Regions from separate parts of the Homo sapiens genome. Here regions 1, 2, 3, 5, 6 and 7 are each linked to region 4. Evidence: fine-mapped expression QTL. A gene starts in region 4. Each other region holds a variant in brackets. All regions are shown on one strand. Distances are between the middles of the regions.

Region 1 (4,072 bases), 110 kb after region 4:
TTTTATGCGAGCAGACTGCTGTTGTAAATCTTTATCAATATCAGTAAAAAATTATTTTGAAATATTGATTTTAACTCACTTCCATTTGATGATGTATATATTTTAAGTACAATTATCCTGTAGTTTTATTTCAAGGGGTTCTTTGTTAGATTTTGTGTTCTGTCATTATGAGTTACATTGTGTAGCTTGACACCATTTTTTATATTCTGAATCAGTGTGTCTGGCCTGGGAATTAAATGTTTCTTAAATTTAAGAAAATTCACAAGTAAAAGAGCCTCCACCAATGTATCTTTAGGAATTTTTAAAAATAATATTTCCCAATTTCTTCCATGAGATTATCAGGTTTTATTCTTGAGTCACTTCAGACTTCTTCAATTTTATCATTTAGTCTTTATTTTTGAATAATATCTAGTTTCCTCCAAAACAGACCACTTCATTTATAATATCAAATGTGTTTTTAGAGAGTTGTTCTTTATTACCTAATATTTTTCCGATTTGTTCTCTATCAGTTTTAACAACATACTGTTAGTCCCAATTTTAGCTTATTTGATTATGAGAGATTTGAATTATTTTAAGCACTGATATAACTATTAATGTTCTATAAGTACCAGAGATACATATTAAAAGAGGCTTAGAAACAAGGTATTGTCTCAAGAGGTGGAAAGTCAAGGGTCACATCAAAGATATAGCCTGCTTTAAGAACCTCTTTCCATCTCTTCCATCTGCCATCATTATTCACTTGTCTTCTCCAAATCAAAAGAAGGCTGCTTTTTCTTTGAAAATAATTTCTGAAGAAAGGGGAAGTAGAAAAAGTAAAAGTACTGTATCTCACTGGTCAGCTTGTGGCTTGTCTATTCATACCCATTAGTTTTTAAATTTTATTTTGAGAAAAAAAAATCTGAAATTTATAAAAAGGTTGCAAAACCACTACAAATAATTTTTCTTAAGTGTAAATTTCTAACCTAATTTCACATAACTTCCTAGTAATGTAGTGTACATTTTCTACAAGTAAGTCTTCCTCCTACAAAATCCAGTATCACAAACAACATCATGAAGTTAACACTGAACTATTAATAACATCTAATCCTCGGGTCTCCTTCAGGTTTCAGCAATTATCTTGCTTTTTCTTGTTTTTGAGGACTGAAGAGGTGGTCTCTTGCTGATATGTGAATGGATTCAGTTGCTGTTAGTTTGCTTAAAATTCTCATGTTAAATTAGGTAGGCCTATAATTTTCTGGTCTTCTGAGAGCCTGTGGTTTTTATATTATTGTAATGCTTACAAAGTGTATTTTAAGGTGTTTTCTACTAGAAGATATTATATAGCATTGGTATAATTTATTATGAAAGTATTTTGAAAAACACAAACTGGTTCAGGTTTATGGTTTCTTGGTGGGTAAATATTTCTATTCAAGTATATTAAAGTTTCTAATTTATGAAGTCTAAATATCAAAGTGTCTCATTTATATATCTATTGGTTTTTATCAGTTACATTGTTTTAGATAATTTTTCATTTCATATTCATTTTCAAATTTGCTTTAAATTGTTCATACACTTTGCTTAATATATTTGTTTGCAGTGTCTTTGTTGATAGCCTTGGCATCTGACATTTTTCTTGTTCAATCTTTATAAAATTGTTTATTATATCAGTCTTTTAAAGAACTTCCTTTTTGATCTTTTCTCTAGCACTTTGCTCTATTTTGATTAATTTATGTTCCTGTTACATATTTGCCTATTTCTATTTTTCTGAGTTACTGTACCTTTCTCAGTAAATAGCAACTGTCCTCTGTTAAATGCTCAAACTCAAAACTTGAAGTCATATTTTGATTCTCTCAAAACTCACATCTAATCCAGCAGAA[A/C]TCCTGTCAGCTTTGTGTTCAAAATATTATGGATGGGATAACTTTTACTTCTATGAATGATGGGATTTTGAAAGTCAGTCCTCCATGGGGAATAACTAAAAACAACCCTGATAAATGACCAAAGATATAAATATTTAAAAGCATCAGTGACTTGAACTCTATTTTGTTGAAAATAATAAAACTACACCTCTTTTCTTTGGTTTAGATTTGTAGGAATATTTTTCCATCCCTTCACTTTCAGCCTATGTATATTCTTAAAGTTAAAGTGAGTCTCTTGTAAGCAGGATATACTTAGGTCTTTTTTTTTTTCTAATCCACTTAGACTCTCTAAGATCCATTTATGTTTAAAGTAATTATTGATATGTAAGGACTTACTAGCGTCATTTTGCTAATTGTTTTCGGACTCATTTGTATTTCCCTTTTCCTTTCTTTGACTCAGGTTATTTTCCATTATGATTTGATGATCTTCAGTGGTGTGTTTCAGTTTCTTTCTCTATATTTATTTACTTTGTGTGTGTGTGTATCTACTATAGGTTTTTACTTTGTGGTTACTAAGAGGTGTACAACACCTTGCAGTTATACCAGTCTATTTTAAGCTGTAAATAAGTTAAGTTTAATTGCATACAAAAACTTGACATTTTTGCTTCTTCTTCCACCTTCAAATGTTATGCTTTTAATATCACAATATATATCTTTTATTGTGTATTTATTAATAAAATATTGTAGCGAATGTTATTTTTAGCACTTCTGTCTTTTAAACTTTATATTGAAGTTAAAAATGATTTATAAACCAACTTTACAGTATTAGAGTATTCTGAATTGACCTATATATTTGCCTTTGCCAGGATATTTTAACTTTTACATATTTTAATGTTAGTAATTAGGCTATCTACATATTCAATGAATCTCCATCAAAATTCCAATCACATTTTTCACATGAATAGAAAAAGCAATCCTAAAATTCATATAGAACCACAAACAACCTCAAATAGCCAAAGCAAAATTAGAAGAGACATACAAAGCTGGAGACTTCATACTATCTGGTTTTAAAGTATATTATAAAGCTAGTCATCAAAAGAGTATAGTACTGGCATAAATACAGACACATAGACCAAGGAAACATAACAGAAATCCCAGAATAGAATAAATTCACACAATTGTGGTCAACTAATCTTCAACAAGTCACCAAGAATACATAATAAGCAAAGAATGGTCTGTTTTAAAAATGGCGGTGGAAGCGTGATGCGTACAACTTTGTTCTTTTGGCTCAGGATTGTCTTGGCAATGCGGGTCCTTTTTTGGTTCCATATGAACTTTAAAGTAGTTTTTTCCAATTCTGTGAAGAAAGTCATTGGTAGCTTAATGGGGATGGCATTGAATCTATAAATTACCTTGGGCCATTAGTGTGGCCATTTTCATGATATTGATTCTTTCTATCCATGAGCATGGAATGTTCTTCCATTTGTTTGTGTCCTCTTATATTTCGTTGAGCACTGGTTTGTAGTTCTCCTTGAAGAGGTCATTCACATCCCTTGTAAGTTGGATTCCTAGGTATTTTATTCTCTTTGAAGCAACTGTGAATGGGAGTTCACTCATGATTTGGCTCTCTGTTTGTCTGTTATTGGCATATAAGAATTCTTGTGATTTTTGCACATTGATTTTGTATCCTGAGACTTTGCTGAAGTTGCTTATCAGCTTAAGGAGATTTTGGGCTGAGACCATGGGGTTTTCTAAATATACAATCATGTCATCTGCAAACAGGGACAATTTGACTTCCTCTTTTTCTAACTGAATACCCTTTATTTCTTTCTCCTGCCTGATTGCCCTGACCAGAACTTCCAACACTATGTTGAATAGGAGTGGTGAGAGAGAGCATCCCTGTCTCGTGCCAGTTTTCAGAGGGAATGCTTCCAGTTTTTGCCCATTCAGTATGATATTGGCTGTGGGTTTGTCATAAACAGCTCTTATTATTTTGAGATACATCCCATCAATACCTAGTTTATTGAGAGTTTTTAGCATGAAGAGTTGTTGAATTTTGTCAAAGGCCTTTTCTGCATCTATTGACATACTCGTGTAGTTTTTGTCTTTGGTTCTGTTTATATGCTGGATTACGTTTATTGATTTGTGTATGTCGAACCAGCCTTGCATCAGGGATGAAGCCCACTTGATCATGGTGGATAAGCTTTTTGATGCGCTGCTGGATTCGGTATGCCAGT
Region 2 (4,072 bases), 190 kb before region 4:
AACTGAACAATTAAGGCAATTCTAAATAATTACCATTTCAAAACTGTTTCTTCTATTCCTGGTTCATAGGAAAGAAAAAAGTTATTCAAAGTATTTTTAAAGCATTTGATTTGCAGATGGGTGATTCGTAATAAATAAAACATTTGAGCATTTTGAATTTATATTTCCTGAGTATTTTATTTTTCAATCTTAGCTTCCATGAGTGAAAACAAGTGCCATTAAAAAACATTTCTCTTTAAAGTTGACACTGTGTCTATGAAGTAAATTTTAGGAAATAAGACTGCGCCATCTCCTGGCCACTATCGCCAATTGCAACTGAGCTCTGTAGAGTATATGAATTAGAAACATTGATTCCGGAGAATAACCATTTTTTTTTCAAATAGTCATTTTGGATTATACTACATTAAAATTTCCATACTGTAAAGTGCACATCTACTGTGGATGAGAGTTGCAGTCTTTAAGTGTGCTTATGTCTGTATCTGGGGAAATATCCTTAAAAGTTTGGGACAAGAATATATGGCAGCCATTCTCAAAGGTAAGAATAATTTTATTCAGAAAACTAAAATAGCTGCTCAAATAAATATTTATTAACTGCAGATAGTTGATGCTTAATGCACTGAGGAGAGATATAAGATTTCCAAAGGGGAAAAACTGCCATGAAGTTTCAGAGGTATTCTTGCAATTTTAAAAATAATTTTTGTCCTCCCTCTGGCGCATTTGAAAACTATTTATTTCAGTCAGTGGAAAGTCCCTGAGGAAACTGCTTACAAAACAGTTTCTAGGACATTTTCTTTGTATGTCATCATTTTTCTTTTTTGAAGGACAGTAGCTTCATTGTTATTATTAGGAATAAATGGAAGCCCACTGGTGGTAAAAGATAGTTGATGAATTAGAGATTGTTTAAACTATTTAAGCAGCATGACTCACTAAAGATTTTTTAAATTATATGTATATACGTATGTGTGTATGCATCTATATGCACATATATAAGTCTATGTAGACATACATTAAACCCCTATAGGTTATATTATCATGGAGGCGTTTTTCATGAAGCCAGTAAGAATGTATTTCCAAGGAATATTTTGCCAGCAAATGTGATATTAAATTACTTCAGAGTATCTGATGCTGATTTAGGATGTAAATGTGTTTATTAGGTTATGCATTAATTTTAATGGTGTGAATATAAGAAAGCAGATCTTGAAAAATTTCGATGTACTCAATATTCATTTATTATAAAAAAGTTTTATATTCTAAGCCTAAACCGTAGTACAATGTCTAGCAAGTAGTTGAAATTCAATTCATATATACTGAGTAAGAAACTCTTATATATAATAGATCTCTTTGAGACTCTGATAAAACTGAAGAACTCTACAAAATGGCGTACAGACACACAGTTTTGCATACAATTTCACTGGGTTCTTGAATCTCCTAAATGGTATTCAGGTTAGATTCCTTGGTGATTCTTCAGTTGTTTCTATTGCATTAATCCACTTATTGAATGCTATTTTTCTGAAAAGTGCTAGATCCTGTAGAGGATACTGAATGTAAAATATTGTGCTCTAAAGGAAGTTACATTATACAATAGAGATATGGTTTAAAAAAAAATCCTAGAGTTACTGCATTATGTATGTGGTTTTATAATGATGTGCTTGTATCTGAGAAACTGAATTGCTTTTGACCTTGGGAGAACATCCATTTTGGGCAGTATTCGAATTTATAAAATAGTTTTATAATCATAAAACTTAATTTATATAATGCCTTACACATTCCATACTCTTTATAATAATTTAAGGACTTAATCTTATCAAATAGGTCATTTGTCTAACAACTCA[G/A]TAGTATATGAGGAAATTGGGGCTCAGCAGTAGGGTTTTTTCTCCCTAAGGTTAGTAATATGAGTCATCTGCAGTGGAATTACTGTGCTCACTTCAGCAATTTCAGACTCCAATGTCTGAGGAAGGATTCATGTCTGTTTTTTTCATTCATGGCCTTGAACAGTGTCTGATATAGGTTCTCAACCTATACACTAGATTTCCACTGACTGAAAAAAAATAAAAGCAAGTATTAGCTTAATAATTTCTTCATTCAACACCTATTTAATATTTTTAATAATCTATTTGTGCCATGCACTGTGTTAGACACAAGAGATAAAGAAATGATTAAGATACAAGACTTTGCCTCAAGTTGCTCACGGTCTATATTGTGTGTACAAAAACAACCAATCAACCAATGTTGGTATTATTTGACAGTGTTGGTACATCAATGAGTTCTTTGTAATCTTGATATTTATATCCATGGATGCTGCTTGAAGCCTGAACTCCTAAGCCACTAATTAGTGGTGGGAAGAAAGAGGGGGTAAATGCTTTAAGAGCTAGCATATAACAAAAATGAATTGGGTTTATTCTGTATCATATAGAGGGCCTAAGAGGCAAACATTTCATAGAGTATTCAGAAGAACATAAGGAATGACTTTTTTCACAGTTAACAGCTGTCCAAGAGTGTAGTGGCTGCCTCGTATGATAAAGCATCTGGAACTCATTGAAAAATGCATGTAGAAAATACCAATCAGAGCCTGATTGATGGGATTTTTAATTACTGCTTTAATATTGGGACTGAATCATTTTGTAGCTCATTAGAAACATGGAAAGTATTTGTTAAATAAATAAGTCATGGAATTTCAATTCTAAGGCCATGAAAATTAAAACACCCTACCATTATTTATCAATAAAACACAGTGCAGTTTTGCTCATCAGAATTTTGCCTATGTGATAGCCTCCTGAGAGTAGGCAGAAAAGAAAGACATAGAACGCAGTGCGTGACTTACAAGGGAATAAAACTGACAGAGGTTAGTGTAAGGTATATAGGCATGAGTGGGGCTTAAAGAGGATATGGGAGAACACTGAAGACAAATATTAGTACAATTCCTATAAGGTAAATACCAATATGTCTTTCTAGAAGAAGCAATTGTTTTGGAATTGAGGAAACCTAGAATGGATTTATCTATATGACTTGGACAGGTTACTTATACTCTTTGGACATTTATTTCTTCTCAGCAAAACAAGGGTAATAATATTTAACTTGCAAGATTCGTGGAGATAAAAGCTTAAATAAACGGCAGAGTACAGTAATGCTTATATACGGGATGCTAAATAAATAACTCTCACTGTTATTACTTTGTATTAAGATATTATCTTTGCCCCCTCGTGGCAGTCTCTCAACAAAGAGTACTGTAATTGCATTTAATCCACTTAGTGGATGTGGAGCCCAAAGGGCAGCCATCACTAGAGCAGCGTACAGGCTTAGTTCCAGACTTCGTGTTTGGTTGTTCATTTCATAGGCGAGCCACGTGTTTTGTAACATATTCTCGTATATGTTATTTGGATTATTTTCAGGGCTTTCTGAAGAAAATAAACATCGAAATCATAGTTTGTGTTTATGCTACATTTATTGGGGTTGTCAGGAAAACAGAGTCCATGTAATATGTGGAAATAAGGGAGTTATAGAAATTTAACCTAACATAAACAAAGGAGGAGCTTGAAAATGAATGTCTGGAAGAGGGAAATTGGCAGATAAGAGAAAGATTCACTCATCTACTTGAAGCACTGGTGTGGGCTGACAAGTGGGAACTGAAGCTCTGTGAAGTCCAGCATGTCCAATCACTCAAATGGTTCCCAGCCAGGGGTTCTGAAGGGGGGCTATGGGAAACCAGTGCCTCTGTGTAGGTTCTAGCTCTGTTGGTCTGTGAGCAAACACCTGGTGGTGAACCTGTGCCACCATGGGTCAGTGAGGTCAGAAGGCAGGAAGACAAGCTAGATGTGGAGTAAGGAAAAGTGAAGACAGCCTGGAAATCACTGGGTATCTAACCTTAATGACTTGTGTTTCACTTCTACCTTAACAATCTCACCATAATTCCTTTTTCTGGGCCAATCTCACTTTGAACAATACAGGAAAGGGAATTCTGAGAAATGTAATTTGCAGTCAGCCAAACTGATAGTGTAGTCTAGTACAGTGTACTCCTTGTCAACACGGCTTTCAGAGCAAAAACAAAATCATTCTTTTACCTGCAGTTGATATA
Region 3 (4,072 bases), 180 kb after region 4:
TCTTCAGGTATTTCGACAATTTTTTGCAGGGAAATTGTTTCTACAACCAGCAGGATGCAGAAAATGCTTTCCAAGAGTTCACTGAATCCCAAAACATGGATTTTTATGCCATGGGAGTAAGCAAACTTATTTCTTGTTGGCAAAAATGTGTTGATTGTAATGGTGTCTATTTTGATTAATATAGATGTGTTTGAGCCTAGCTATAACAATTTAAAATTCACAATCCAAAACCACAATTATTTTTGTATCAACCTAATACTATAGATTTAACAATATTAAATTACAAAGCCTTTTAATTCAAAATAACAGGCATATGTCTTTTGGGTGAACAGTAAAACAGTATATATATATATATATATATATATATATATATATATATATATATATACACACACACACACACATATATAAAACATATATACTGACCATACGTATACACACGTGTGAGTGTGTGTTTGTGTAAACTCCATGCTTGATGGACGGATGGAATAGATCTGTGAGCAACAAAACCACAGTTACTCAGGAATTCTTGACTTAAAAGTCAGCAGCATCAGTGCTAGATGAATGCCATATATACATGAATAGAATCCAAAAACCTATCAGCCTAACTCCAAATTTTAATAACTTCCTCAGTGTCCTCCCAGCACTTAGTAATAGGGCCAGTATTGTTTAAATACTATCATTTTTTCATCGATTATTTAAGTTTCTTGTCTGTTCACAGATACAGTATTTGAAGATTCCAAATTCCTCAATAAAATTAAATTGTTTATTTTCATTAGCAAAGCAAAGTTCTGACAAAATATTTGATGCCTTATTTGAGGTGTTAGGAAAACGACTGGAATTAGATCAATGGTGTTTTTTATAAAGCAAAACCTGCTATAAATATAGATTAGATTTGCAACCAGATTTCATTAACTTATCAAAGGAGCAGTGGGTCAGCAATTTCGAGACATTTTCCTTCAGAACTCTTGTCACATTCCAGAATTTCTCAGAATGATTTTGGTATTTATATGGGAATTTCGAAAGAAACTTCAAAAGAAAGTATGTGACTAATTCTACATGCCTGCATTTTGTTACCTAAATTCTGGAGAGGGACATGTAATGTCAGATGACGACATCTCTACCCTCCTTGCCACCTAGGTACAAAACCTCAGTCATCCCTATACATTCTTCTCTTTCTTACTTTTCAACCACTTGACATCTAAGTATATATGTATGGTTGTTATCCCTAAAATAATAGCCAAAGTTGTCCTGCATTGAATTTGTAAACCAATCTGAGAATAACTGAAATCTTTATAAAGTCTTCCAATCCATGAAGATGATTTATTCCTCCATATATTTGAGTTCTTTTAAATATCATTCATAAAGTTTGTTGTTTTACAGGTTTATTCCATGGTACTTGGTATTTTATTTTGCACATTTTTGTGATGCTGCTATATTTTGCCTGCAACTAACCAATGGAAATTACTTAAAATCCTTCACCAAACCTTTCACTTAGGCATTGATAGCACCCATCAGATGGACAAATTATTATTTGTTGGACCAGGCCTTTTCAAAACTATCAAGCAGATAGTCAGGTCCTGTGAAGTGTGCCAAAGAAATAATCCCCTGTATGCAGGCCATACATTTCAATCTCTGTATCTTTAACCTCCTTGTTAAGTTTGTCTCTTCCAGAATCAAAGCTATAAAACTACAAATGGTTCTCCAAATGGAGCCCCAGATGCAGTCCATGACTAAGATCTACTGCGGACCTCTGGACCGGCCTGCTAGCCCAGCTCCCACATTAATGACATCAAAGGCACCCCTCCCGAGGAAATCTCAACTGCATGACACCTACTACGCCCCAATTCAGCAGGAAGCAGTTAGAGTGGTCGTTGGCCAACCTCCCCAACAGCACTTGGGTTTTCTGTTGAGATGGGGGACTGAGAGACAGGACTAGCTGGATTTCCTAGGCCAACTAAGAATCCCTAAGCCTAGCTGGGAAGGTGACTACACCCACCTTTAACCACTAGGCTTGCAACTTAGCTCACACCCGACCAATCAGGTAGTAAAGAGAGCTTGCTAAAATGCTAATTAGGCAAAAACAGGAGGTAAAGAAATAGCCAGTCATCTATCGCCTGACAGCACAAGGGGCGGGACAATGATCAGGATATAAACTCAGGCATTCAAGCCAGCAATGGCTACCCACTTTGGGTCCCCTCCCATTTTATGGGAGCTCTGTTTTCACTCTATTAAATCTTTCAACTACCAAAAAAAAAAAAAAAGAAAAGAAAAACAATTAACTTTTTTATATATCAGTTAAATTCATCCATGATGTTT[T/TTTATG]TTATGTTTTCTGTATTCTTACTGGTCATTTTTCTATTTGTTCTATCAAGTATCCAGGAATATGTGTTAAAGATGTCCACTTCAATTGTGAATTTCTTGAGTTGTTCTTTCAGTTTTGTTCTTTTTTTACCTTATGCATTTTGAAGTTGTATTATTTCCTGCATACAAATGTAGAATTGTGGTGTCATTCTTTTGGAGTAAACCATGATCATTACTGGCATGACTTACTTACTTACTATCTATCTAGACATGTTGATTGCTTCAATTTCTACTTTAATCTTAATAAAAATACACCAACTTTTTAAAAAGTATTACGTCTTGTATTTCTTTCTGTTTGACTTTATTATTACATATGCTTTTTTCTCTTCATTTGCCAGAGTCTTTGATTGATCAACAAGCTGTTTTAATCTACCATTTTTTATCTCTAACATTTTATGTAGAGCTTCTCTTACTTTTTAGTTATTCAAAAGATGCATCTTTCAATTATTCTAGTCTTAAACGTAAAGATGACTTTTTTCATTTACTGACAATGTCAGTAATCCAAAACTTTTCTATTTAACTCCTTCTACCTTTTATGTTATTGTTGTCCTGAATTTCATTCTACATGAGTTGAAACCTCATAAGGGATTGTTGTTGTTTTTATGCAAACATTTACTTATATTTACCCACATATGTACAGTTTTCTTATTGCTCTCTATGCATTCTTACAATTTTCTACTTTTATATCTGTCATCATTTCCTTCTCTCTATTAGTATTTCTTTTTATTCATATATTTTAGCAAAACGTTTTCTCAGTATTTGTTGTCCAAAGTGTCTTACATGGTTTTTTTTTATGATGTTCAGAAACTGAGATTACTCAACATTTGGCTACATTTCGGGGGTAAGAGTCTGAATTGGATTCACCCTGCTTCCACAGTGTAGTCTTCTAGGTATCCGACTGAAAATCAGTAGTTGCTCTTGACTCTTTTGTAAATGAACGAAAATACACACACACACACACACACACACACACACACACACACACACAAATGTTATAAGATTTTTGGAAGTTTTTCCCAGATAGGTAGTTAAATAATAAACATAATTTAAATTGTTTAGAACAAAACATAGCTCAAATGATTTATAGTATTTATGGTATTACCATATTAAAATGTGTGAAATTGTATATCTTTATTGAAAATTTAATTGTACATATTTATTGAAAGCTAAAGCTTCTAATAAAAAAGAATAGAAAATCCCAAAAAGAAAATATTATTTCTAAGTGCAATTATATAAAACAATAGAATACAGATATATTAAATAAAGATACTATCTGTATATCTTAATTTTATTTACTATTTTAATCTATTTTATGACTTCCTATTGCCCTATGGAAAATTTTCTCAATTTTAATATGTCATTAATTTATTATTTACTCCAAACGTTTATCAATCCTGCTGTTTTCCATATATGCTTGATTTTCAAGATATTGATTTCTTTCTTTAGATAGCAACTTTTTTCACACTTGACATTTTCACTAAATGAAAATTTCTGTTATTTGTATGATTTCTATTCTTGCTTTATATGAATAATAGCTTCTTTATCTAATTAAATATGTTTATCCTGCCTATTTTATATTATTGCCCCACCTGTTCCACAAATATGGTGGTATATGAGGGTATAAAATGTTATATAATAATTAATCTTTTAAAATAATAAATAATCTTTTAAAATAATAATATTTGAACTCCTCAGATACGTAGCTATTTTGGCT
Region 4 (4,072 bases):
TTATATCAACTGGATTTCTCACACTCAGTTTCAGTTTCTTCACCACTCAAATATGCATAGTTTCTCCTCCTTGGGTAGAAGCCACAGTGTTCCTCAGTTACAAGGAGTGCTTTATATGAGAAATGGCATAAACAACTGTTGATACTTGTTATGGAGAAAAGTCAAATAACTCAGAAGCATGTGAAATCTGAAGTTTAATATTTTGAAAGAGTTGCTATGTAGAAAACAGGTGGCAGAACTAGAACCCATGGAGGAAAATTAAGGGATGAAGATTTTGGTTCAACACCAGAAAAAAATATTTTTAAAAAGAAATGTAATTAGTGTTGTCTAAATCATAATTGAACAGTCTCAGGAAGCAATGAGCTCTCTGTGGATAAACTCATATTCTGGAATGTAATAAGGCAAAGATGTAATAGAAAATGATCCAGCAATAGATGGGGATAGAAAAAATATAAGCATATAGTTATATAGTTTGTGTCAGTTTCCTCATGATTGTCAAGGGTTGGTGGAGGGTTAGAGAAGAGGAGGTCGCAGGATGCTATGGATTGAATATCTGCATACCCTTACCCCCAAATCAAGTTAGTATGTTGAAGTTTAATCATTAAAATGATGGTATTTATAGGTGGAGCCTTTGGGAGGTAATTAGGACATGAGGGTGGAACCCTAGGAATGAGATTCATGCCCTTATAAAAAGAGATATGAGAGGGCTTGTGTCCTGTCCGCTTTCCTCCATGTGTGTTAGATTGAGCAGCTAAAACAGATACACCATACATTGGGTAGCTTATGTGACCACACAGTTCTGGAGGCTGGGAAGTCCAAGATGAAGGTGTCAGTAGATCTAGTGTCTGGTGAAGGCTGGCTTCCTGGTTTGCAGATGGCTGCTTTTCCCTTATATTCCCACATGGAGGAAAGCCAAAAGAAGCAAGCCCTCTCATATCTCTTTTTATAAGGGCACTAATCTCAGATGAGACAGAGCAACATAGAATGAAAAAATAAAAAGAACAAAATAGGGAGCATGAAATTTTAGTGACTTGACAAACAATAGACATTTTTCTTTCTCTGCTCATACATCGACAGAAACTGGGAATATTTTTGTCATATTCTGCCACACTTGAACAAATTTCAGTGGAGGCATCATAACTGAGCCTGTGTTAAGACCAAACCTTTACTTGACTTACAAAACTTTCTGTGAGTTTTTTTCTTAGTATGGTTGATTTCTTCAAGAAAAAGGATGTAAGTTTACCAATAAGGTATTTAAAGTACAAGTTACTTAATTCTTTATTAGCAAATAGTTGGCTGCTAATTTTTGCTTCTGAAAACACTTAATAATTAAAGGCTACAATATTTATATCTCAAGAAACGTCTCAGGTTTTTTCTCGTCACTAAGCTTAAATCTTACTCTTAAGCAAAAATATTTTAAATTTGAAAACATACATTGTATTTGACTATTAGCTTTTTTTTTAAAGAGAAGTCATTAAACTTAAAGCTAAAAATAAATTTTATATTTATGTGTAGCAGTTACCATATTGATGTGCTAAAAAGTTTATAGATTTAGCTACCGCAATAACAACTTTCTAATCAAAAGTTGAGACTGTTGTGAACAACTCTTTTGTGAATATAACCTAGCATTGTACAGTATAGATTGACTATCGCATATGCAAAATGCTTGGAACCAAAAGTGTTTCAGATTTCAGATTTTTTTTTTTTCAGATTTGGGAATATTTATTTGCATATGCATAATGAGACATCTTAAGGATGGGACACAAGTCTAAACACAAAATTCATTTATGTTTAATATACACTGTATACACAAAACTGAAGATAATTTTATATAATATTTTACGTAACTTTGTACCTGAAACAAAGTTCTGTCTGTGTTTTGACTGAGATTTGTCATATGAAATCAAGTGTGGAATTTTCCACTTGTGGCATCATGTCAGCAATCAAAAAGTTTAGATTTTGGAGCATTTCCAGTTTTGAACTTTTGGATTAGAGATGCTCAACCTGTATTTCCTACAAACTGTCATTAGGAAAAATCAGAAGACTAATTATTGTCTAAATTTTACCGTCTAGAATTTCTAATATCATTCAGCATTTTCAACTTTTTTCTTAATAGTTTCATATTGGACTGCTTGCTTCAAATTCACACATTAACCTAATAATTAAAAGCTAGTGGAAAGAATTATCAGATTAAAGCCTTAATTTCTACAAAGCATAAGTTAATAGAGAAAAACAAGTGCAAAGAGAGGCACCAGGTGGTTCATAGGACCTTCAGGTAAAACAAATGAGATTTTATTAGGCTTACAGATAGAATTTTTGCCTGTGTGTCAAGGGATAACAGGAGTGTTGATTTGAGTGGCTTATGAAACAGGCATGTTTAGCTCAGCAATATTACTCATCACTTGGCTTTTTAATCTGCCAAGAGATGGGTACGATTTGCACTTATGAACTGTGTGTAATTATGGTGATTCAGGTTTTGGCTTATAATGAATCCTCCATCACAGTCTGTTTTCTCGGTCTTTTATTTTCTGTTCCTCTAAGGGAAGAGAGACCAAAGAGAATTCTACTTTGACCCTGGCTTAAGAGTGGAACATAGATGTCTATAAAACTATGTGGTATGTACATTTATAAAAATTTTAATTTGCATTTTCTCTAGGTTTTATGTTTTTGGTGATAACAGAATAAAGTGTGCATGCCATCCAAGATAAATGGATGAAGGAAGTTCACTTCTTTTTAATTATCTTATACTGACAGATAAAGCAAAATAGAAAAAAAATTCTGTATTTAACCTTAACAAGCTGAGACACACTAGAGAAGTGGAAAATAGATTGTGTGCATCTGATCGTGCTGCACATTCCCTTTAGGTTGCAATCTCTGCTGTTATTACCGACAACAACTGAGACTACAGTTTTAACTCTGTATTTACTTCTAGTTATCCCACAATTGGTACATAGTATTGGATGGAGCCCTGTATTTCAAGGAGTTCAACTACCTAATTTTCATAGCTGAGATAACTAAGTTTCTGAGTCCGTTTTCCTTTTTCCAGTCTGATCTCTCCTTTTCTCAAGGCTACTTTCGTTTCTGATAACATACTAAAGGTTATAGGATTTATCGGTATTTTGCCTCCTGGGGTCATTTGTTATTAAAAAAGAAACTCTATTCAAATAACTGAATCTCTACTATTGGATTTTCCAAAGCTATGATAGACCAGCTAGTGAAACTATTTTGTACTGGAATTTGGCAGGGTGATGGGGTGGGGAGAAGGTGTGGAGAGGAATTCTTGTCCTCAGTCCTGATATTTCTTTCCAGGTGAATGTGGTCTTCCGTGTGCTACACTCCTTGCCTCTCTCTGCTCTTCTATTCACTATCTACCAGAGAAGATGGAGTGATTCACTCTGATTAATAAATTTGGAAAAAATCAATTAGACATGCTCCGAATAGTTCCACCCTTTTTGTCTTAGAAGACAGCTGCCCTCAGAGAGCAAGATTTTACCTTTGTAAATTGGTACACATGATCTAGCTTAGCATTGCTTTTAACAGGGGGAAGTCTGTATAATTCCTGGATTATTATCATGCCAGTGGGTTCTCATATTATACTTTATCCTCCAAATTAATTTTTTGTGGTGAAATTGATGCTTTTACTTCTTTTCTTTTCTTTTCTTTTTTTTTTTTTTTTTTTGAGACGGAGTCTCACTCTGTAGCCCAGGCTGGAGTGCAGTGGTGCCATCTTGGCTCACTGCAAGCTCCGCCTCCCGGGTTAGCGCCATTCTCCTGCCTCAGCCTCCCGAGTAGCTGGGACTACAGGCACCCGCCACCACGCCCGGCTAATTTTTGTATTTTTAGTAGAGACGGGGCTTCACTGTGTTAGCCAGGATGATCTTGATCTCCTGACCTTGTGATCCACCCGCCTCGGCCTCCCAAAGTGCTGGGATTACAGGCGTGAGCCACCGCGCCCAGCCGATGCTTTTATTTCTATCTTCTCATTTGTGTAAAGTGAATAATGATATCTCACTGTGATTTCTAGTTCATTTTTGTGACTCACAAATATAGATACTACTTCCGTTATATTACC
Region 5 (4,072 bases), 190 kb after region 4:
AGACGTGAGGTTGAGAGTGTGACCTATGAGGAGGTATGCTACACTCGTAAAGAACTGCTTTTGTTTTCTAATTTATATAAGCAAAAAATCTGGAGAACAGGTATGGGAATGGATATTAAGGGTATGGAATAATGGTGGAAGGAACACAGATTTGGATTAGGCTGAATTTATTGATTTGGGCCCACTAAATAGGGATTCTGCATTTAACGTTGCAGCTTGATGAGTTAAAACAGGTTGTAATAGTTTATTTTCTTGGTTGGCTGAGATAAGGATTAAAAGATGGTCCACTGTGAGTGAGCTGGAAATGCCTGATCTCCCTTGGTTTAATGTAGAGAAAGGGATCCAAAGGCTTGGGAAAATAGGGATGGTGGAGTGGATTAGTTACTTTATACCTACCATCCCAGCTGGGAGAGTCCAGAAAATATACCCTTGACCTATGCTTTGCAAAATAGATTTGTGAGGGCAGCACCTGCATCTTTAAAGAACCCTGTAATTGCTCTTCTCTGTATGTCAGATCTAATGGTGGGAACTGCAGTCACTCAACTACAAAACTTGAAGACAATGAGAATAATTGGATCCCTGAGGTGGCAGGGACCAAGTGGCAGCACTCAACTGTCAAAGGGAAGGTGGGTGTAGCTACTGTAATGGATAGTAGAGGCGAAGCAGCAATCAGAATAGTCTGACTCAGGTAGAGCTCTGGCATTGGCTAATTAAGCACAGTGTTTCTAGAAGTGAAATTGAGAGGAAGCCTACTGCATTCCTACTTAATTTATATAAGCAGAAAACTTCCAGATCAAATGGACAAAAGAATAATTTGAATTAAAAAAACAGATTATTGACTGTGTGCAGTGGCTCACACCTGTAATCCCAGTACTTTAGGAGGCCAAGGTGGGTGGATCACCTGAGGTCAGGAGTTTGAGACCAGCCTGACCAACATGGCGAAACCGTGTCTCTACTGAAAATACAAAAATTAACTGGGTGTGGTAGTGAACAGCAGTCCCAGCTACTCAGGAGGCTGAGACAGGAGGACTGCTTGAATCCGGGAGACGGAGGTTGCAGTGAGCTGAGATCACGCCACTGCACTCCAGGCTGGGTGACAGAGCGAGACTCCACCTCTAAACAAAACAAAACAAAACAAAAGCAAAAAATAAAAAATAAATAAATAAATAAATAAAAAACAGAGAATTGGGGCCCCTCAGTCAATTTCCAGACTTGATTCAGTTTACAGACTCAGAATTCCTTGAATGAAGGGGAGGCTGGGTCCCCCTGAGGAAGGACCCCATTACACTACCAAAAATTTATGCTGTTAATCTTTCTCCCGTCCTTCCACAAGGAGATCTCTCGCCTTTTACAAGGGTAACTCTGCATTGGGAAATGGGAAATGATCAGACATTTCAGGGGCTACTGGACACTGGCTCCAAGCTGACACTGATTCCAGGGGACCCAAAACGTCATTGTGGTCCTCCAGTTAAAGTAGGGGCTTATGGAGGTCAGGAAATTAATGGAGGTTTAGCTCAGATCCGACTTACAGTGGGTCTAGTGGGTCCCTGGACTCATCCTATAATCATTTCCCCAGTGCCAGATGCATAATTGGCATAGACATACTTAGCAGCTGGCAGAACCCCCACATTGGCTCCCTGTCTGGTAAGGTGAGGGCTATTATGGTTGGAAAGGCCAAATGGAAGCCACTAGAGATGCCTCTACCTAGAAAAATGGTAAATCAAAAACAACATTGTATCTCTGGAGGGATTGCAGAGATTAGTGCCACAATCAAGGACTTGAAAGATGCAGGGGTGATGATTCCCAGCACATCACCGTTCACCTCTCCCATTTGACTTTGCAGAAGACAGATGGATCTTGGAGAATGACAGTGGATTATCATAAGCTTAACCAAGTGTTGGCTCCAATTGCAGGTGCTGTACCAGATGTGATTTCATTGCTTGAGCAAATTAACACATCCTTGGTACCTGGTATGCAGCCATTGGCTTGGCAAATACCTTTGTCTCCATTCCTGTCCACAAGGCCCAGCAGAAGCAACTTGCCTTCAGCTGGCAAGGCCAGCAATA[C/T]ACCTTTACTCTCCTACATCAGGGGTATATCAACTCTCCGCTTTTGTGTCATTAGCTGATTTGGAGAGACCTTGATTGGTTTTCACTTCCACAAGATATTACACTGATTACAGTATGCTGATTGGATCCAGTGAGCAAGAAGTATCAAACACACCAGATTTATTTGGTGAGACATCTGTGTGCTAGGGGACGGGAAATAAATCTGAGTAAAATTCAGGGACCCTTTACTCCGTAGAATGTCTAGGGGTTCAGTAGTGTGGGGCCTGTTGAGATATTCCTTCTAAGGTTAAGGATAGTTGCTGCATTTGGCCCCTCCTATAACCAGGAAAGAGGTACAACGCCTAGTGAGTCTTTTGGATTTTGGAGGCACCACATTCCACATTTGGGTGTGTTACTCTGGCCCATTTATCCAGTGACCCAAAAGGCTGCCAGTTTTGAGTGGGTCCAGAACAGGAGAAGGCTCTGCAACAGTTCCAGGGTGCTGTGCAAGCTGCTATGCCACATAGGCCGTATGACCCAGCAGATCCAATGGTGCTTGAGGTGGCAGTGGCAGATAGGCATGTTGTTCGGAGCCTTTGGCAGGCCCCCATAGGTGAATCACAGCAGAGGCCTCTAGGATTTTGGAGCAAGGTCCTGCCATCTTCTGCAGGTAACTACTCTCCTTTTGAGAGACTGCCCTTTGCCTGTTACTGGGCTTTGTTGCATATAGATATATATTCATTTATATATCTATATCTATATCTATATCCATATCTATATCTATATCTGTATCTATGTACATATCCTATTGATTTTGTCCCTCTAGAGAACCCTAATACTCTGTCTTCTTTGAGTTAAATATGCTTGGTGTCCTATAATCTTTTTGTACTTAAATATTGATATATTTTCCTAAATTTCAGAAGTTTTCTTTTATTATTCCTTTAAATAGATAATCTATCCCTATCTCTTTCTCTACCTCCTTTTTAAGATGACTAACTCCTAGATTTGGTCTTTTGAGGCTATTTTTTATAGGTATGCTTATTCTTTTTTTATTATAGTTTTCTTTTTTCTCCCCTGATCAAGTATTTGCAAATTCCCTATCTTCAAGCTCACTAATTTTTTTTTTTTTTTGCTTATTTCTGCTATTAAGAGACTGTGATGCATTCTTCAGTATATAAATTACTTTTTTTGAAGCCCAGTATTTCTACTTTATTTTAATCATTTCAATCTCTGTTAAATTTATCTGATAAAATTCTGAATTCCTTCTCTGTCTTTTCTTGAATTTGAATTTCCTCAAAACAGCTACCTTAAATTCTCTATCTGAAAGTCCATATATCTCTGTTTTTTCAAGATTGGTTCCTGGTGCCTTATTCAGTTTGTTTGGTGAGGTCATGTTTTCCTGCATGGTCTTGATGCTTGTGGATGTTCATCAGTTTCTGGTTTGAATTGAAGACTCTGAATTGAAAAGTTAGGTATTTAATTTGTCTTTGCAGTCTGGTCTTGTTTGTACCCATCCTTCTTGGGAAGGCTTTCCAAATATTTAAAGGGACTTGAATATTATGATCTTAGCTATATTTGTATTAGGGGGCACCCGAAGATCAGTAGTGCTGTGATTTTTGCAGCCTTGTATAGGAGCCACTATGGTGGTCTTGAATAAGATCCAAAAGATTTATCTGGATTACCAGGCAGAGACTCTTGTTTTATTTTCTTACTTTCTCCGAAACAAATGGAGTCTCTCTGTCTGTACTGAGCCACCTAGAGCTAGGGGGTGCAAGGACACAAGCACCACTGTGGCCACCATCACTGGGACTGCACTGGGTCAGACCTGAAGCCAGCACAGGACTGTGTCTTGCCCAAGGCCCGATGTGAACCACTACCTGGCTAATGCTTATGTTTGCTCTAGGCTCTAGGATTCTACAATCAGCAGGTGGTGAGGCCAGCCAGGATTGTGTCCTTCCTTTCAGGGCAGAGTTCCCCTTGGCTTTGGGTGGGTCCAGAGATGCTGTCTGGAAGTCAGGGGCTAGAGT
Region 6 (4,072 bases), 190 kb before region 4:
ACTTGCTTACCATCCAGCCAAACTGTTAGTCACTGCTCATGACTGATTCCAGATATGTACCTCTATCCATATCTCCTGCCAGGCAAAATGAACAATCAGGTGTATAGCTTGAAGTTCTTCCCGTTGGAAAAATTTTCTTCACCACTATACTTCAAGGCCACACCTGTAGTGCCTCATCGTCCAATTCAGATAGTGCCAGAATAGGGCAGAACCAACTGTGAACAAGGATAAAATTGTTCTTCCTCATTCTGCTGTAATAGACAGCTCCACATAAGAGAGAGGAGGTGGTGTGGCAGGAATAGAAGCCATGGGAATTTAAGCCACTTTCTATGCAACTTATTTATGACTTACTTCAACATCTTTGGAGGAAAATTCATCTATTGTTTCCACTTGATGAAGTACTGCTACGTAACACTTGGCGAGTCAGACAACACCTTGTTAATATGAATACTTATGGTCACCTGCTTATTTGATGGCCAATACTAAGTGTCAGGACTCTGGTGGGAACCTGTAACAAGAAGGAAGCAGTTTCTCAAAAGGACAATAATTCCCTGTGAGAAAACAAAACTTTTCTCTGAAGTCTGAGAGGGGTATACTGTGAATCACCTATAAGGATCTGCTGAAGGTTTCCCTTAGGATCTCTAGCTGCCATAAGACACCTCAAGCCCCATTGGATTTGCTGGGTTATATGGCCCACATGGCAGGAGAGGTTGAATGACAGTTTGGCTCTGTTGCAGAACCACCTTGTAATCTGGGCCTGACTCAAAACTGAGAGCTTATTGGATTATTTGGTAAATGGTTTAAAGTAAGATGCCCAAATCAGGTATCTATTGGAACCAAAATACAGAGCTCCACCTCTTAGAGATAGCAGGTGTCAGATACACAAACATGTTTTCCATCTGATAAGAGATGTTTCAATATGCACCAGGCCCTAATTCCTACAAATTCCACAGATATTACATGCTCGTGAATGTTTATAGGGTTTATTCTTCAAGCCTCTGGCATGCATATCTCTGGACAAGATATCTAGAGTATTTTCTACCTTCTGCTTATTGGGTTCAATCAGAATGATATCTATATAGTAGGCTTGCTTGATGTCCCGTAGAATGGAGAAGCAAACAAGTTCTTGGTGGCCTATCTATGTAGTAGACTTGCTTGATGTCCCATAGAGTGGAGAAGCAAACAACTTCCTGGTGGACTACACTGTAGCAGAGAGCTGGAGAGTTGAAATAGTCTTAAGGAATGCTACGTGCATTACTGCTTCTAGTGGTTCTTACTAACAAGTATAGAGAAAAAGTATTTATGACATCAGCAGCCTAAAACTACAAAAAAGAGGCTGTGTTGGTTTGTTCCAATAAAGCAACTACATCTGGAAATACAACTGCAGTTATAATCATTACCTAATTAAGTTTATGTCATTCCACAAGATCCATCTGCCTTAGCCACAGGCCAAATAGGTGATTTGAATGGGAATGTGTTAGGACCCCTTCCATCCTTGACTGTGGCACAAACTTTGGTGGTCCCTCTAGGAATGTGTTATTGCTTTTGTTTCACTGCTTTGGGAGGGAGAAAAGTTCTTAAGACTCTATTTGACATTTCCAATTGTAATAGTCCTCAGTCCCTGTGTCAGAGATCCAATGTGGAAATTCTGCCAGTTTTTGAATATGTATCTTCCAAAGATGCTTTCCAGAAATGAGGAAATAAATGTAGAATAGATTTGGGAGCCCATTAGACTCACTGTGAGATGGACTTGAACCAAA[C/A]TGTCATTGATGATTAGACCTTACTCACCTCTTTAAGACCTACCCAGCCTGGTGGACCACAGTGGCAGTTTAGGTTTCTAGAGAGTAGTTATTGTTCGGTAAATTCTAAAAAGTAGGGTTATTTTTATTTTCTTAATGTATAGTCTCTTGGTAAATTGGTTTAGGTCCTTTCGGAGAAAGCTAGGAGAAATATTTACTATGTAAATTACTGAAAGTGTAGCAGAGTCTCTACTTACAAGTACCCATCTTCACTTTCTGCAAGAGGCTCTGGGTCTATAAACAGGTTCAACTCTAGAAGTATGTTGAGGGGTCATTACTTTCCTTATGATAATTTGAGGCAGACTTAGCTTTATCAGACCTAGTGCTTTTCCACCTATACAAATCAAGTGTGACTTTATTAACCTGCCCACCTATTTCATTTGTAGAAACACAATTATTGATTAGTCAATGCAAAACATCTCTGTAGGTCATATCATTCTGGTAATTGCTTCAGCACAATTTTTTAAAACATAGAATTCATGTCCATCTTGTATCTGTAATATAAGTGCCACTTCTTGGATTTCACAACTCCTGGGTCACATCATCCCTTGTGAATTCAGGGAGGGTATTTTCCTGGCCACAAGTCTCACAGATATCCCTGGCATACAGGGAAAAGCCACAACAGAGGACTTTGATGATGATGGTGCTTTCTTTACCAAGGGGGTACCATCTTCGAGGGTCTCCTAGGGAATATAATTTAGAGGTGCATAAGCAGTTAACATGTAATAAATCCACTCCGACTTTTAATCTCCAAAACCCAGTGCACATGATCTTGCCAGAGTGGCTTAATGGAAAGGGCACTATGGAGGTGTCTATAGAAAGCAGTTTTCTCTATGTAGCTACTACATCCGTGAGTCCTCAGCCAAACACCTGCTGGTGGGAATTGGGCTGCTCTTGGTCGACAAGATCAGCAATTAGGAATATACGCTAATTTTCTAGTGGAAGAGAGAAAGGACAAGTTAAGACCTGCTGGGTACCGCTGAATCTTTCTCACTGTAATGACTTCTGCTTCCTTTCTGCTTTGTAAATCTTGTAGAGTTCCTCTTTGGGCCAACTCAAACTTTGAAACATATAGGGAAGGAAATTCCGGGAAATTTAGTTTCCAGTCTTAGCCAAGTTGACAGAACAAAATCAAGCATATAAAATATTATAAATTTCATAGTTTTTCAATTGTATAGCTTTATGAAGCAGTATTTTTTCTTACTCCGAATCAAAGCATGGGCACATATTAAATACAGGGAATCAATAATAGTAAATGCCTAATGTCTTTAGGCTGACCTACTGTTGATTTCACTAGCTTTAAAAATTTATTTTAAGATAATTTTAAAATTACTTGTCATTGTAAGAAACAGTACAGAAACATCCCATATACCTTTTACCCACTTTTCTCCAAGAGTAACATCTTGAATAATTTTAGTGCAATGTCACAACTAGGAAATTGACATAATCCACAGAATATGCATGAATTTCATTCAAGACAACATACAAAGTCGAGATTTTTGACATAGGAAAACGTCATTTTAAAAGATCATTCTCACTGTGTGGTGGAGAACAAAGGAGCAAAGAAGGGAGCAAAAACATACATTTGGAGGTTGTTGTGTAAACCAGATAAGAGACGACAGTGGCTTAGAAGATGATTGTAAAAATAAAAAAAGAGTTGGAGGTGTGGTAAGTAGTAATAAGATGGTAGATACATTTTGAATGTAGAAACCGTAAGATTTGCTTAGGGATTCGGGTGTAAAAAAAAGAAAGGTACCAAAGATTCTTCTACAGTTTTGCTCTAAACAACTGGACTGAATGGTGTTCTTACTTACTGAGATGAGAAAGACTGTAAATTTGTTCATTTTTGTGCCATTCAGGCAGCCTGAAAATTTTCAAAGAACAATTATTATACTGGCCAGCCATCTTTCTGGTCACAATAGGATTATATTAAAATGTTTTTAATTGAAGAAAAACCATAACAACTTTTCTTTCCTCTAACCGCCTCCTTTTACACGCTAAGAAAGTAAAACGAAAGTACTGTTAGTAACTTAGGAGTAGAAAGTAAAATTTCAATGGAGTATTGTGAAAAATACTTAGAGGTGAGTGATAGTTACAAATTAACTACTACACAGTGTGATGCAGCTTAAGAGACTGAGAAAAGGAAATTTTCAGCTTTAAATGTATTACCTTTCAAAAGTTTACAAATAATCAAATAATTTAACTCAAGAAGCTAGGTAAGAGTAGGTAATGGATCTGAGAAAGGAGAAGGGAATTATACAGGGAGAAGTAGA
Region 7 (4,072 bases), 120 kb after region 4:
GCTTTGTGATTATATGCCCAGATTTATCTGAGTATGCACTTAGAAGAATTGCTATGTGACATAGTAGTCTATGTTTTATTTCAGTAGATAGTGTCAAAGAGTTTTCTAAAATGATTGTAAAAATGTTCCTTTCCACCAGCAAAATTCTGCGCATTTTCACTGACACTTAGTATTCATTATTTTTTACTTAAACATTCCGGTGAATGTGTAATTATAATCTTAGTTTGAATTTAATTTGCATTTTCCTGATGAATAATGATAGTAATGTAGTTGAGTTCCTTTTCATATATCTTTGGTTTGAATATGCTACTTTGTGAATTGCCTGATCATCTCTGCCATTTTAAAATTTGGATTGTTTACCTCTTCCTGATTGTTTTGTAGGAGTGTATTATGCATTCTGGATATAAGCCTTTTACCAGATTCTTGTATTGTAAATATTTTTTTCCAGTCTGTGGCTTGCTTATTCAATTCTTAATCATGATTTTGAGAAACAGAAGTTTTTAATTTTAATGTAATTCAGTTGAGTTTTATATTTGTTGTCATTGCTTTTCCTGTTTAAGAAACCTTTGCGTAATCCTAAGTCAGGAATATATTCTGTTTTTTTTTTTCCCCACACAAGTTTGACTGCTTTAATTTTAGATTTAGGTCTAAGATCAAATTCACATTTATATTTAAGAATAGTATGAAGTAAATCTCAAGGTTCATAATTTTTCCATATAGATAACCAAACATTCTACTGTCACTTACAGAAAAGTCCATCCTCTTTTGCTCTAATTAGGTGACTATATTGGAGTGACTGGAAATATGTGGGTATATTTCTAGGTTTTCTTTTCTGTCCATTGGTCTATTTGTCTAACAATGCACAATTAACTCCTCAATTAATATAACTTTATCATGTCTTGAAATTTGAGAATATAAGACCTCTAATGTTGTTCTTTGCTATTTAAGATTGTCTTCGTTTTTTGGGGGAACTTTTGTTTCTATATAAGTTTTATGATCAGCTCATCAATCTTCACCAAAAAAATTGCTGACATGTTGATTGCAACTATATTAAATTTATAGATCAATATTTAGTAATTTGGCATCTTAACAATATTGAACTTTCATAAACTTTCTAATGTTTTAAGTATTCTTTAGTTTCTCCAAATAACATTTCAACATTTTTAGAATAAAAGTCTTGTATATCTTTTACTGCATCATTACTATGTGAATTTTTATGAAATTATTAATCATATTTTAAATTTTTATTTATAATTGTTTATTGTTGGCATATACAAACACAAATAAATTTTCTACATTAACCTTGGATCCACCCAACTTCTTTAATCCATTTTTGAATTATAATGGTCTGTAGATTATTTTGAATTTTCTACATGAAATTATATCATCTTAGAATAAAAATTTACTCTTTCTGTATTAGTACGTATTACCACAATAATACTATGTAGAAAGTTGACTTTAAACTCACTGTTCTAATAATTATTCATATTGTGAATTTGAAAATCAGAGATTTAGGTTTGGTGGGATTTTTGTTTGTTTGGTTTGTGTTTTGTTTGTTTGTTTGTTTGTGTCTTCCTGAGTTACATTTTCTGTCTACAGTTGGCTGGCTATGCAGTGAAGCTCCATATGTCCCACATTCATTCTTCAGAATAACTTGGGCAAGTTCTCATGGTGAAAGTAGAGGTGCAAAGGTAAACAAGTCCAATTATCTAAGTATGTGCGAAGTCTCTATTTGTGTCTTGTTTACAAACAGCACGTGGCCAAAGCTATGAATCACAACATTAAGGGCTGAGTAAAATTTCCTGCCCAGACTTGGACAGTACTTGAAACTTGTATACGAAAAGAACAGATATAAAGAGGGGAGAAAGAATTTGGGCTGAAATTCAATCTATCACACTTTCCCAACCTAATAGCTCATATTTCTTTTTGTTTGATGAGTTAGTTCATCAGTACAATGCTGATAGGAAGACTGATAGTTAACATTTATGTCGTGTTTCTATATGTAATAGGAAGGATCTGGAGTACATTTTTGATGAATATAAAATTTTAAGTTTATGGTTTTCTTCTTTCAGCTCTTCAAGCATTTTTTCCTACTGTCTAATGAACAGTCTGTATTAATTTTAGTTTTGTTCCTGTCTTTATAAGTTTACCTGTTCTCTCTTTTTCAAAATAAACTGTTAATTTTAGAGCCATTTTAGATTTACAGAAAAATTGTGAAGAGAGTACAGAGTTGCCATTACCCCCATAAATGCAGGTTTTTCCTGTTTTAACATCTTACATTAGTGTGGTAAATTTGTTACAATTAATTAGGCAATATTTATACATTAGTATTAAATACATCCATATTCTATTCAGATTTTGTTCATAATGTTCTTTTTTGTTCCAGGATTTCATCTGAATACCAAATTACTTTTGGTCATCATG[T/G]CTTCTTAAGCTCCTCTTGGCTGTGACACTCTCAGACAAGAATTTTGATAATCATGTTTTTATAACCTTGACAGTTTTCTAGAGTACAGTCAGGTATTTCCCACAATGAGAGTTGTATGATGCTTTCCTATAATTAGACTGGGATGATGGGGATACATGGAGGGAAGGCACAGAAGTAAGGCATGGAGGTAAATCATCGTGGAAAAGCTATTTTATCACAGTATGCCAAGTGTACATAACATTGTAGATGTAAACCATGATTACCTGGATGAGGTAGCAATTGCAGATTTTCTTACTGTAAAGTTATTCTTTTTCCTCCCTTGTTATATAGCACCATTTGGAAGCAAGTCACTACGCATAATTCACAATTGAGTAATAAAGATTTATGCTTCACCTCTTTGAAGGTAGAGTATCTACATATATTATTTGACATTCATCTCTATTTGTTCAGTCATTTATTCATATCAATATGGATTCATGGATAATTACATGGGTACTTTATACTTTGGCTTATAATACAATACCACCTTTTATTTTACTGTTCAGATGTTTCCAGCTTTGGACAATGGGAGCTCTTTCAGGTGACTCTTAGTCCCTTTGACATAATACATCATTGTGTTTAGTATGTTTGTTTCACTTTTTAAATTTTTCTTCATTTTCAAACACTATAAGATGCCAAAAACTCATCTTGCATATTAACTGCCCACGTCTTAGAATTAGATATTTCTCTAAGAAGCCCTGATTCCTTTTGTTGGTAGTGTCAGTCCTCCAAATTTGTTCTTCTTCATTATTAGGTTGATTATTTATTCTAGGTCTTTTATCTTCTCATATAAACTTCACAAAAAATTTTCTACTTTTTCCATTAAAGCCTTTAATATATTAATTATAGTTCATTTTAATCCCCTCTCTGATAATTTCATTGTCAACTTTATATCTGCATCTGGTTTTGATACTTTTTTTCTCTTCAGAATCTGTTCGTTCTTGCCTTTTGCCATGTTTAAAGTCAGACATGATGTATCAGGTAATAAAAACTGAAGTACACGTTTAGTGTAAAGGTTTTTGTTAATCTGGGTGCTTTAAACTGTATTTAATATCTGATGGGCTGTGCTTAATGTGTATGCGTCTGCAGGTGTCAGAGGTTTCAAATTTCTCCAGTGACCTTATTTTTGTGTCACTGGTTGACTTGGGCTTCCCTCAGTATTCCTCCTCAAATAATCTTTGTCTCACAACTCTTTTAGCTGAAATACAATGTATTATTTTAGAGCCCTGTTTTTTTGGTGGTAAGTTGTGAAGGAGAGGAAGCATTCTGTAATATTAAAATTAAATTTTGCTATTTTATTGGGCCTGTGCTCCTGGCTCTGACCTTCACAAGTGTTTCTTAAATTCCTTCTTTCACTGTGCATGAAACAGGAAGGCTCAAGAGGGTTGCAGTGAGAGTAAGCCCATTCCTCCAAGTAGGATAAAGCTATGGCAAAGCTTTATCCTGTGGACAGTAGGCGTTTGTAATAGAAGGATGCTGTTAGCTTATTTCTTTTTCCCTTCTTCTGCTAGAGCCACAAAAGGATCTTTTTCAGATCTTCACTATGAGGTCCTGGTAGGGTTCCTGGAGGTAAGACACACAATGTTCCACCTGCCCTTCCACTCCCCC

Alleles and levels. Alleles are on the strand shown, and positions count from the first base shown. SD is a standard deviation of normalised expression in the study named. Not every link is listed here.
For the expression in subcutaneous fat of the gene that starts at base 2,519 in region 4, allele G in region 7 goes with a lower level than allele T (large effect, 0.81 SD a copy in TwinsUK).

Evidence for each region. PIP is the estimated chance that this variant, and not a neighbour inherited with it, causes the effect.
Region 1: its variant is the best candidate, but not a certain one, in a credible set for the expression of LINC01239 in subcutaneous fat (GTEx, PIP 0.90).
Region 2: its variant is the best candidate, but not a certain one, in a credible set for the expression of LINC01239 in esophagus mucosa (GTEx, PIP 0.76).
Region 3: its variant is the best candidate, but not a certain one, in a credible set for the expression of LINC01239 in ileum (GTEx, PIP 0.86).
Region 5: its variant is the best candidate, but not a certain one, in a credible set for the expression of LINC01239 in transverse colon (GTEx, PIP 0.59).
Region 6: its variant is the best candidate, but not a certain one, in a credible set for the expression of LINC01239 in thyroid (GTEx, PIP 0.77).
Region 7: its variant is the best candidate, but not a certain one, in a credible set for the expression of LINC01239 in subcutaneous fat (TwinsUK, PIP 0.71).

The regions. Positions count from the first base shown.
Region 1 is chr9:22,755,859-22,759,930 of GRCh38, forward strand. The region is part of intron 4 of LINC01239 (long intergenic non-protein coding RNA 1239); the gene reads left to right. Among named protein-coding and RNA genes, the nearest start is that of LINC01239, 110 kb to the left of the region's middle. The variant A/C (reference allele first, on the strand shown) is at 1,857.
Region 2 is chr9:22,452,319-22,456,390 of GRCh38, forward strand. It overlaps DMRTA1 (DMRT like family A1), which reads left to right. Exons shown (of 2, transcript NM_022160.3): 2 at 1-3,422. Among named protein-coding and RNA genes, the nearest start is that of DMRTA1, 7.5 kb to the left of the region's middle. The variant G/A (reference allele first, on the strand shown) is at 1,833.
Region 3 is chr9:22,821,592-22,825,663 of GRCh38, forward strand. LINC01239 (long intergenic non-protein coding RNA 1239) reads left to right here. Exons shown (of 6, transcript NR_038977.1): 5 at 1-7; 6 at 1,661-2,622. Among named protein-coding and RNA genes, the nearest start is that of LINC01239, 180 kb to the left of the region's middle. The variant T/TTTATG (reference allele first, on the strand shown) is at 2,320.
Region 4 is chr9:22,643,682-22,647,753 of GRCh38, forward strand. It overlaps LINC01239 (long intergenic non-protein coding RNA 1239), which reads left to right and starts at 2,519. Exons shown (of 6, transcript NR_038977.1): 1 at 2,519-2,615.
Region 5 is chr9:22,831,849-22,835,920 of GRCh38, forward strand. No RefSeq gene overlaps it. Among named protein-coding and RNA genes, the nearest start is that of LINC01239, 190 kb to the left of the region's middle. The variant C/T (reference allele first, on the strand shown) is at 2,067.
Region 6 is chr9:22,458,015-22,462,086 of GRCh38, forward strand. No RefSeq gene overlaps it. Among named protein-coding and RNA genes, the nearest start is that of DMRTA1, 13 kb to the left of the region's middle. The variant C/A (reference allele first, on the strand shown) is at 1,761.
Region 7 is chr9:22,765,576-22,769,647 of GRCh38, forward strand. The region is part of intron 4 of LINC01239 (long intergenic non-protein coding RNA 1239); the gene reads left to right. Among named protein-coding and RNA genes, the nearest start is that of LINC01239, 120 kb to the left of the region's middle. The variant T/G (reference allele first, on the strand shown) is at 2,425.